Homo sapiens: one gene and its partners. The protein of the gene in region 2 purifies or fractionates together with the protein of the main gene of each other region. This does not show direct contact. Each region holds a gene or a part of one and is shown on either strand. Other genes may lie near its edges.

Region 1 (3,744 bases), on a different chromosome or scaffold from region 2:
CCCTCAAGGCAACCAGCATTTGTCCTGCACATCCTCAGTGGCAGGGCCACAAACACAACAGACAATAGCCCACTGTGTTGTAGGTGGGGGGTTGGTGGGGAGTGGAAGCAGAGTACGATCATGCCCCAGGACCAAAGGCCTGGAAGTGAGATGAAAGTGTTCTCTGGAGTCAGACAGCCCAGGTACAAATCCCTGCTCCCCACCCATTCATTCAACCTGTGACCTTGAGCCGTTCACCTACTCTCACTAAGCCTCACTCTCCTCCTCTAGAAAATGGGATGGATAATAGAATCTACCCCATGGTTGTACAGAGTAAATGCGATCATGCGTGCCCAACGCCTGCTTAATAACTGTTATTATCATGATGATGGTGATTAATCTTCATGGGTTGTGGACCATTATGTGATCGGATTGAAAAGGTTCTGGCTCAAAGCCAGAAGATCTGGGCGTGCATCCCGCCTCTGACCCACATTAGCTCTGGGACCAGGGTGTGGTCATCTCTCCACTCAGACACTCTGTTTATCCGTCCCTAAATAGAGGGGACCGTCCCCACCATGACAGAGCTGATGGGATTCAGGGAAGTAACCCATGTATGTATTCTGTACGAAAGACAGCCTGAGCAAACCTGGGAGCCTCCCATTGCTACATTAATTAATTGGAAGGAGGTTGCCAGCCAGAAACCAATTACAAAGTCCCTCCAGGGGCCTCTGCGGGGGCAAAAAGGAGGGATGAGGAAGGGCGGTGGTGGCTTCTCCCCCACTCCCCACCCCCACCCCACTTGTGCCTCCTTAGCAGCTGGTCCCGCACTCCAGGCCCACAAAGGAGAGGCTCATTCTAAACAGCTACTTTTCATGTGGAAGCCACTGGATTTGCATCTGTCCTTCCCTGGCAAGGCCTGCCCCATGCCAGCTGCCCCAAGCTCCCCAGGCTGCAGGGTGCTCCAGGACCCTGGGCCTGAGCCTGCAGGGCCTACAGGGGAAGGAATGGGAACCCAATGGGGCTGATCAGGAAAAGAGGGAAGGAGACAGGGCTGGGCGCAGAGAGAATCTGCACACGTTCTCATCTCCTGGACACCAGATAAGCTCTGTGGCCAGGCATATCCAAATCAGAGTCAGGGCTGCCCGGGTGCCAGGAGCCGAGACTCCACCAGCCCTGGCCCTGGCGGAGGCTGTGTCTGCTTCAGCTAGCTGGCCTGGGAGAGAAGTGGAAAAACTCACTCCATCCCTGAGCTGCCAGGACATTGGCCCAGCCAGCGCCCACACTCCCAACCAGCCAAACTCAAGTGTGTGCCAACCTCACAGGGCTGGCCACTGTGGGGTGATTCTGGGAGCCCTGGAGAGCCTCAAACCCTTCCCAGCTTCCTCTAAGAACTGCCATAGGTGTCAAGGTGGCAGTGCCTCGGGGGAGGGGAACACAGGGCCTCTGGGCACAGTCCAGAAGAAAGCACCTGACAGCGCTTTTCTGGAGAGTGAGCTTCATTGCCTAGAGGGAGAGACAGTAAGGAAGGAAAGAGCCTGCATTCATTAGGCACTTACAGTATGCAGGCAAGGCAAGAGGTCTCCTGGCTCATGCCCACTGGACCTCGAGACTCTGAACTCAAGGCTTTGGCCTTTCCATGTCCTTCTCCTCTAAGGTCCTGGATCCCAGGGACTGTGGCTAATGCCACTGTTTTCCTAATGCCTCACACAGGGCCTGGCCCAGAGTAGGTGCTCAGAGGGTGCTGGCTAAATGAACGAATGACTGCTAGCCGCACACCTCCCAGCATGAGAATGCTGGATATCTGGAAGAAGGCCGGGAAGGGAGAGGAGGCATAATGGGTGTGTGGGCAGAGCAGGCAGAGCCCTTGCCCACCCGCAAGTGGGCTCCCACCCGGGAGCTGGGTCTGTGCTGGTACCCCCGCTTCCTCTTCACCAAGGCTTCCTGAGGTGCTGGCTCTCTTACTTCCTCTCCCAGGGAGACCCAGACAGGAACGAGGTGCTGGGATGTAGAATGTCTGGAGGTTCAGGTATCTCCTGGGTACCTAGATTCTGCGTCAGGGAACTGGAGGCAGAGGGGCCTCATAATCCCCCTCGCCATCTGACTGTAGGTATAGCAAGGCTCCTATGGACTTTGCTCCCCTGCCCCACATCCTGTCCCTCCTCCCACTCCCGCAATGCTTCTTCCATCTAGGGCAGATGGTGTCCCACAGAGGGAAATCCAGGCACCAGCAGGACAGGAAGGGGCGATGCAGTGGGGTAAGTGGAGTGGGGCCAAAACATTTGTGCCTGCTCAGAATGCCCCAGGACCCCTTGCCAGGGCAGCCGGGTGGAAAGAGCACTGACCATGAGTCAGGACCGAGGTGCCAGCCCCTCCAGCCTCAAACTTACTGAATGACTTTGGGCAAGTTACAACTTCTGCTCCCAGCGTCTCAGTTCCCTCATTTCTCAAGGGAAAGGGTTGGGTGATTTGCCCGCTCCAAAATTTTATTCTCCTATGGGTGACTCTGTAGGGGCCCTAGAGACACATGATCTTTGGAAAATGCAGGCCTGCTATTACCTGGGCAGGATAACATCATCCTCAGTCCTTTCACATTCAGCAGGAGCCACTGGCTCTTATCAGCAGGCTGTGCCCTGCTGGAGCTGAGGCAGGAGAGGGAAGGCTGCCTGCAGAAAGAGGGGCCAGGGCACAGTTGATCGTGCTGCCCACGGACCTACAATCTATCTGCTTAGCAGGGAGGAGCATGTTGGCATGAAAGGTCTTCTCTTTTCCCACACTCCCTCTCCTAAGGCCTTCTAAGGTGCAGCAGGCAATTGTGCTGCTCAGGGTACTTTGCTCCTGGACCGCTGACCCCCCTGAGCCAGGCTCAGGAAGGTAAAAAGCATTCAGCTCACTAGCGTCTAACTTAACACAGCACACCTCAAAATAGGGGAGCCTGGTCACTATAAGCCACCTCCTCCCTTACCTGGAAGACCCACCTCTGGGTCACATCACAGCCAGCAGCCAGGAAATCACCCTAAAGGGCCTCTGAGCAGTACAAAGCGGGTTGCAAGGGCCTAGACTTTAGCTCACAGGTTTTCTTATAGCCCATTAACTTGTACTTTACACACGACTCTATTAATGTACCTTGTCCTCTGCTTTTCCAGTTGATAGCAATGTAGAAACAGATATTTAGAACTGGAGAAGCACTGCTAGTCTGGTACATGACTGAGATGGAACAGAACAAGAAAATTATACAAAGCAGTCAGAAGAACCTGAAGAATAAAATCAGCTGGAGCTACTCGTCTCAGGGAAAGCAGCCTTGGCTCCCTCGCCCCGAGCTGCCCTAGGAAGCACGTTGGACTGAGAGGAGGCAGCACCTTGACCTCCTGTGCATGCTCAGGGCCCTGCATCAGAGCCTTCCTTCCCTCCACTCTTTCTTCCCTTTTTCTGGCTTTCTTCTCTTTCTCATCCTATAAAGAAAGTAAGGTAACTTACTAAATTACATACAATCAAATAAAGTTTAAAACATAGCCAGGAGAAATGCCACAGGGCTAGAAGTTCTCCGGGGCTCTGTGTTCCTAAGGCTAGTTAGGGCAGGAGTCCTTCAGAAACCACAGGGTTTGCCGGCAGCTTTAGCAGCTGTGCCTCATGGTTAAGGGGGCAAGGGGATGTATGAAAGAGAGGCGGAAAATGGAAAACAGGCTCACCTCCTCTACAGAAGTGCTACTGAGGATCTAGCAACTTGCCATCTGCTTTCCTCTTCTCCACTTGCCAGGCCTCTCTGAG
Region 2 (3,744 bases):
GGGTCACCCTGGGGCCTCCCCAAGAGCCATCACCCAGGCCTCGCCTAGCCCTGTGCCTCCTCCCAGCCCTGGGTGCAGCCAGTGGATGTCTGGATGGAGAATGGGATGTATCTGTTAAATATCTGCCTTTGCCTCAGCCATGAGCCCCTGCAGACCGGCCACCTCCCTTCTCCCCGTCTGAGCAGTGTGGGGGAAGACCAGGGCTCTGGGCACGGCAGGGCCAACTGCCATGTGCTGGACACCTTTCTAGGTGGTTTATGAGATTACTTCATTTCTTTTTTTTTTTTTTTTTTCTGAGATGAGTCTTGCTCTGTCACCCAGCCTCCTGAGTAGTGGGGATTACAGGCAGGTGCCACCACACCTGGCTAATTTTTTTTTTTTTTTTTTTTTTTTTTTTTGAGACGGAGTCTCACTCTGTCGCCCAGGCTGGAGTGCAGTGGTGCGATCTCGGCTTACTGCAAGCCCCGCCTCCCAAGTTCACGCCATTCTCCTGCCTCAGGCTGGGACTACAGGTGCCCGCCACCACACCCGACTAATTTTTTGTAGTTTTAGTAAAGACGGAGTTTCACCATGTTGGCCAGGCTGGTCTTGAACTCCTGGCCGCAAGTGATCCGCCTGCCTCGATCTCCCAAAGTGTTGGGATTACAGGCATGAGCCACCGGGCCTGGCCTGGATGACTTCATCTTCATCCCATCCTTAATGGGGCAGGGGAAGTTGGGTGGGGGGGGGGGGGTCGTCCATCCTATGAGGAAACCGAGGCACAGATGACAAGTGAGGGGCCTGTCCAGCTTGGAGTCCTAGCACCCCACCCCGCCCCAGGGAGCATCTCCCCTGTAGTACCGTCTCCTCCACCCTGTCCCTGGAGCCTCAGAGACATCCTGTGAAAGCTGCCCTTTTATAAGGAGGGAAACTGAGGCCCCAGGAGGGGAAGCAACATGTCAGGCCAGTTGGGAGCCAGGGCTGGCCCCTGCTGCTCCTCTCTGCAAACTGCTGCCCCTCTAAACTGAGGGGCCTCCCTGGTGTGAGGCCTGTGAGGATCATCTGGGGCCTGGTATGGGTGAAGTCAGGGGCAAGGTTGGGGCTGACGTGGATTCTCTCTTCCTCTCTCGGGCACAGGAGCCAAGCCGCCATGGCCTACCACAGCTTCCTGGTGGAGCCCATCAGCTGCCACGCCTGGAACAAGGACCGCACCCGTGAGTGCTTGCTGGGGGCCGGTGGGTGGCTGCTTCCACCTCCTGGGATGGGGACCAGCCAGAGCACACATGGGGACTCTGGAGCAGCCAGGCCCCCGGACCATGGGCTCCATGTGGCTGTCCCCTGGCCTCACCCCTGGGTCTTCCAGCTGACCAGGGGCCTCCTGGGTTAAAGTTTAAGGAGGGAATGGGCCAGTTGCGGTAGCTCATGCCTGTAATCCCGGCACTTTGGGAGGCTGAGGTGGGTGGATCACTTGAGGTCAGGAGTTCCAGACCAGCTTGGGCAACATGGTGAAACCCTGTCTCTACTAAAAATACAAAAATTACCTGGGCGTGGTGGTGGGTGTCTGTAATCCCAGCTACTCGGGGGGCTGAGGCACGAGAATTGCTTGAACCCAGGAGGCGGAGGTTGCAGTGAGTCGAGATTGCACCACTGCACTCCAGCCTGGGCAACAAAGCGAGACTCTGTCTCAAAAAAAAAAAAAGAGAGAAAGAAAGAAAGAAAAAGTGACCAAGAAAAAGCCTTTCGGAGGAGATGACATTTTGACATTTACCCAGAGACCCAGAGGGGGAGAGGAAGGGAACTGTGCCCCAGCTGGGGAGGGGCTGGCAGGTGCAGGGGCCCTGAGGTGTCAGCAGGAGCAGCGAAGGGTTCCTGGTTGGCCAGAGCAATAGGGTGGGGAGAGGTCCCAGGGTTCATTGCTGCGAGTAAAGGACAGCCAGTTCCAGGAGAAGACAGGGTGGCCTAGCAGGGCCTGAAGGACTTCAGGGGGCCCCTGCAAGGCAGAAGAGGAGAGACTGAGTCATGAAAGGTGAGGTGTTGTTGCCTAGGTGCACTGTGTAGTGTGTCCTGGCAGAGGGCAGTCATGGAGAGGGCCCCTCAATCTCCCTCCATCTCCCCTTCAGAGATTGCCATCTGCCCCAACAACCATGAGGTGCATATCTATGAAAAGAGCGGTGCCAAATGGACCAAGGTGCACGAGCTCAAGGAGCACAACGGGCAGGTGACAGGTATGTCAGGGTGGCTGGGACCACCGTCCTGAAAGGAGGTGGTGGGTTGGGGGGGTGGTGCAAGGCAGGGCATGGCCACTCATTGTGGAGCATCTGCCCACTCACCGTGAAACCCGGATTCAAACTGGCTTCAATTTTAAGGGGACTGTGTTGGCTCATGTTACCAAAAACTCACAGGGTTGAGGGCTTCAGGAGAGGCTTGATCCAGCAGCTCCACATGACCAAGAACCCATCTTTTCTGCCTCTTGGCTTTGCCCTCCAGCATGTTTGCTGATAGCATGGAGGGCTCTGACACTCCCTCATAAGCTCTAGGAGTGCCCCCTGGTGTCACTCTAAATAAGCACTGGATCTCAGTAAAAAGTGCTTGCTGGGCCGGGTGCAGTGGCTCATGCCTGTAATCCCAGCACTTCAGGAGGCCAAGGCGAGTGGATCGCTTGAGGTCAGGAGTTCGAGACCATCCTGGCCAACATGACTAAATGTTGAAAAATACAGAAATTAGCCGGGTGTGGTGGCACGCACCTGTAGTCCCAGATACTCTGGAGGCTGAGGCAGAAGAATCGCTTGAACCCAGGAGGCGGAGGTTGAAGTGAGCTGAGATTGCACCACTGCACTCCAGCCTGGATGGCAGAGCGAGACTGTGTCGCAATAAAAACAAAGAAAGAAAGAGGCCGGGTGCGGTGGCTTGCGCCTGTACTCCCAGCACTTTGGGAGGCGGAGGCGGGCGGATCACCTGAGGTCAGGAGTTCAAGACCAGCCTGGTCAACATGGTGAAACCTCATCTCTACTAAAATACAAAAATTAGCCAGGCATGATGGCGGGTGCCTGTAATCCCAGCTACTTGGGAGGCTGATATGTGAGAATTGCTTGAACCCGGAAGATGGTGGTTCCAGTGAGCTGAGATCGTGCCAGTGCACTCCAGCTTGGGCGGCTGAGCGAGACTCTGTCTCAAAAAAAAAAAAAAAAAAAAAAGATTGGTGGTACACACCTGTAGTCCCGGCTACTCAGGAGGCTGAGGCACGAGGATTGCTTGAACCTGGGAGGCAGAGGCTGCAGTGAGCTGAGATCATGCCACTGCACTCCAGCCTGGGTGACAGAGCGAGACTCTGTTTCAAAAAAAAAAAAAAGTGCCTGCTGGGCAGATACAGCTTCCACCTGGATGGTGGCCTTTCAGCCTCTCCCATGTGGCCACCATACAGCCACCTCTGCCTGAGTGTCATCAGCCTCCTGTGTTCCCTCCATCCCCCCACAGGCATCGACTGGGCCCCCGAGAGTAACCGTATTGTGACCTGCGGCACAGACCGCAACGCCTACGTGTGGACGCTGAAGGGCCGCACATGGAAGCCCACGCTGGTCATCCTGCGGATCAACCGGGCTGCCCGCTGCGTGCGCTGGGCCCCCAACGAGAACAAGTTTGCTGTGGGCAGCGGCTCTCGTGTGATCTCCATCTGTTATTTCGAGCAGGAGAATGACTGGTGGGTACCTAGGCAGGGCCAGAGTGGGCTGTTAGGGACCGGGGGCAGGACTAGAGTGTCCCCGGGAA
Region 3 (3,744 bases), on a different chromosome or scaffold from region 2:
CCTGGGAGCAGTACAGCAGGGACGGCCTGTGGCGGGACCCCAGCATGGGGCAAGCACACTCAGACCAGCAGACAGGGCAGGGAAGAGCTTCAGGAGAGGCGGAAGCAGCACACTGAGAAGCGGAACGGGGACACCTGGGTGCAAGCTCCGGGAGGCTCCCTCAGGCCCGGGGCAAGAGCCCAGCACGCATGCATTCCGGCCTTCCAGGCCAGACCTAATTCACCCCAGCCGAGCTGCTCCCCGTGGCCAGCGCTGTGCCTCAGCCCATGCCAGAGCTGCCCCACAGGCCCTAGCACTCCCCACTGTTCAGCCACAAGCGACTTCACCACCATCCCTGGCCCTTCTTGGGGTCCTGCCACCTGGGAAGTGGTGGGCGGATGCACGCTGGATGAAGGGTCTCGCCTTCTCCAAGGGTTGCTTGGGCAAGGCCTCCCTTCTGAGAGAGTCCCAGAGAGGCTCAGGGCCGCAACCTGAGGAGTGGGGCCGGACGGGGGGTGGGGCCTAGGACTACCTGGTCGATGGTTGAAGGGCGAGGGTACATCACAGCTGCCCGCAGAGGCCGATGCGACTCTTTCCTGCTGCTTGAAGAACTCCCTTGGGTTGTCAGGCCGCTGGGCAATAATAGCTGCTGCCTCCTGAGGGCACGAGGAAAAGGTTGGGGCTGGGCCAGGCAAGCTGAGATAGCCCTGTCTGCCTCACCTGGCTGGTGCCCCCAGCTCTCACCTCCACCTCCGACTCTGACTTCTTCATGTGGGTCTCTTCCTCCTCATCCCGATGGTCACCCTAGAAACCAAAGGGACAGTGTCTGGTGCACCTACCCCCCACAGGGGCTTTTGGCCTTCTTTTTTACTGTATTTTATTTATTGATTTTGTTTTTAAGACAGGTTCTCGCCCTACCACCCAGGCTGGGGAGCAGTGGTACAATCACGGCTCACTGCAGCCTCTGCCTCCTGGGCTCAAGCAATCCTCCCACCTCAGCCTCCCGAGTAGCTGGGACTACAGGTGTGCACCACCATGCCCGGCTAATTTTAATTTTTTGGTAGAGATGGGGTCTCCCTATGTTGCCCAGGCTGGTCTCAAACTTCTGGGCTGAAGGGATCCTCCTGCCTTGGCCTCCCAAAGTGTTGGGATGGATTACAGTCATGAGCCACCAGTGCCCGGCCTTCTGGCCTTCTTTTTTTTTTTTTTTTTTTTTTGAGACGGAGTCTCGCTCTGTCGCCCAGGCTGGAGTGCAGTGGCGGGATCTCGGCTCACTGCAAGCTCCGCCTCCCGGGTTCACGCCATTCTCCTGCCTCAGCCTCCCAAGTAGCTGGGACTACAGGCGCCCGCCACTACGCCCGGCTAATTTTTTGTATTTTTAGTAGAGACAGGGTTTCACCGTTTTAGCCGGGATGGTCTCGATCTCCTGACCTCGTGATCCGCCCGCCTCGGCCTCCCAAAGTGCTGGGATTACAGGCGTGAGCCACCGCGCCCGGCCCCTTCTGGCCTTCTTACAGCCCCCATGCTTCTTTCGCAATCTGGCAGGAAGGGTTTCAGAGGTGGTACCTCTGCCCCGTCAAACCCTGTCACACAGCCCCTCTCTTCCCTCAGGGCCCTCAGCCACCTCATCTCTGACCTGCCAGGCCTCTGGGCACCAGGCTCACTCACTCACTTGCTCATCCCCATATCTAAGCAGGTGCCTAGGGCCCTCCAGAAGTGCTCCTTGTTTTGCAGATAACTTCTTGGACCTCCTACCCTAGTGCCGGGGCCACCATGCTCCCAATGTTGCTGCCTGGACCGTGGCATCATGGTCCAGCCTTCCTCACTGCTACCTGCCTTATTTGCTCTCCATAGGCCCTGAAAGGACCTTTCCAAAATGCGGATCAGACCATGATTTTCCTGAGCTTAAAATCCCTCAGGGGTTCCCATGAGCCACAGCAAGCACTGGCTAAATATGACCCACAGATGGCTTTTGTTTTGCTGGTATGATATTTTTAAACCATGTTCATTAGTTACCACCACTTAAAAACCAGGAACTTTCATACTGAGATGAGGGTCCCAGTTTCTCTTGAGGTGACAGAGCCCTGGCGACATCACCTGCAAGCCCGGAGCAGCCATCACCGGGGCCTCGCCGCAGCCCCCTTAAGACAGGCGTGTGCCACCCGCTCACCCCCGGCCCCACCATCGCCTACTGGCTTCACCTGCCCACTGCACACGTTGTTTTGGGTGGGCAGCGCCCGCACTTGGCCTACGTCCCCCACCCCTGCCTGACCTAGCCGTCACCTCTCCAACACCACCCCCTGCCGGCCCCCACCCCAAGGCTCCCACATACTGTGAGATGTAGACATCAAGTCCTCAGCACGACGCAGTCAGTTCCCAGAACAGGCACACCCGTTCCCACCTCCAAGCCTCAGCATGGGAGACTGGCCTCCCTCCCAAATGCCTGCTCCCCACCCGGGGGCCAGGCCCTCTGGTTTCCAGCTGCAGCGTGGCCACTGCTTCCTGGGGAAGGACCTCTGAACAAGAGGCTTGTTCAGGTCATTTCCTCCTCTGGGTCCCCACAGGGTGCTCCTGGCTTCCACCACGATGACACCACATCCTAAGTTCCTGTTTCCGGAGGCACCTCCCCCCTCCGCTGTGAGCAACGCAGGATGAGGACCGGGGTCTCCGGGTGGGTGGCCAGCACAAGGCGGGCGCATGTTTGCTCAACTGCACTCACACACCAAAGGCTTCTTAGTCGGTGTCCCCTGCTGCTCAGGTGGCAGCTTGGGCAGGAGGGGCTGCTAAGGTGGTGAAGTCCCAGGGCTGCTCTGTTTTTGAGCCTATAATCTAAAATTTTAGCTTATGTCAGGAGCACTGGGAGAAGGGCCCTTCGTAGTATCCCACCTCAGGAGGGCTATCACCTCAGTGATAACTTTGTGACCCCCAGAATGAAGTCTAAACTCCTCCTCTGCCCTTGCTCTCCTTTCCCAATCAAATCTCCCCCACTCCTCAGCCCACGGGGTTCCAGTCAGCCTAGGCTCTTCACCTTCCCATGAGCCTGTGTCCCACCAGCCTTTGCTGCTCTGCCCACTGCCTGCTGTAATCTCAGTTGGTTCCTCTGCCTTGTTCAAAGAAAGGACCAGAGGCAACTACCACAAAGGCTTTTTTTTTTTTAATCTGAGACAGAGTCTTTCACTCAGGCTGGAGTGCAGTGGCGAGATCTCGGCTCACTGCAAGCTCCGCCTCCCGGGTTCACGCCATTCTCCTGCCTCAGCCTCCCGAGTAGCTGGGACTACAGGCGCCCGCCACCACGCTCGGCTAATTTCTTGTATTTTTTAGTAGAGACGGGGTTTCACCATGTTAGCCAGGATGGTCTCGATCTCCTGACCTCATGATCCGCCTGCCTTGGCCTCCCAAAGTGCTGGGATTACAGGCATGAGCCACTGAGCCCAGCCCTCCACAAAGGCTTTAATAAACTACCAACCATGTGAACACTGAAACAAGTAAGGCCCAGAGGGAGGAGAGAGATCAACGCACTAACCACATGGGTCAAAGCCACTGCTGTGCCTAAAGCATTTTCAGATACACGGGAGCTCCCCTGCAGGCCAGGCAAAAAGGGAACTCAGATATGGAACACAATTCGTAACAGGGGAGAGAAAGCAACAGCTCCTTAAGCCAAGAGAAAGCATTTCACAGTGCTAAATCCCAAAGTCTCTCGCATATTCCCTTCCTTAGAGGACCTGAAATTGAAAGGGTACCACACTGACCTGCTAGAATGTCCAC

Evidence for each region.
Region 1: the proteins of ARPC1B (region 2) and CORO2B purify together in Homo sapiens (affinity purification with mass spectrometry; 2 studies listed by BioGRID and IntAct, with this or other methods). This does not show direct contact.
Region 3: the proteins of ARPC1B (region 2) and DBN1 purify together in Homo sapiens (affinity purification with mass spectrometry; 2 studies listed by BioGRID and IntAct, with this or other methods). This does not show direct contact.

Annotation. Positions count from the first base shown.
Region 1 is NC_000015.10:68,581,993-68,585,736, reverse strand, and holds part of CORO2B (coronin-2B), read right to left. Parts: intron 1-3,744. UniProt on the Homo sapiens protein: May play a role in the reorganization of neuronal actin structure.
Region 2 is NC_000007.14:99,384,586-99,388,329, forward strand, and holds part of ARPC1B (actin-related protein 2/3 complex subunit 1B), read left to right. Parts: intron 1-1,116; 5' UTR 1,117-1,129; coding exon 1,130-1,193; intron 1,194-2,099; coding exon 2,100-2,204; intron 2,205-3,453; coding exon 3,454-3,676; intron 3,677-3,744. UniProt on the Homo sapiens protein: Component of the Arp2/3 complex, a multiprotein complex that mediates actin polymerization upon stimulation by nucleation-promoting factor (NPF).
Region 3 is NC_000005.10:177,459,921-177,463,664, forward strand, and holds part of DBN1 (drebrin), read right to left. Parts: intron 2,507-3,744; exon of another isoform or gene 2,312-2,506; intron 784-2,311; coding exon 724-783; intron 636-723; coding exon 512-635; intron 1-511. UniProt on the Homo sapiens protein: Actin cytoskeleton-organizing protein that plays a role in the formation of cell projections. Required for actin polymerization at immunological synapses (IS) and for the recruitment of the chemokine receptor CXCR4 to IS.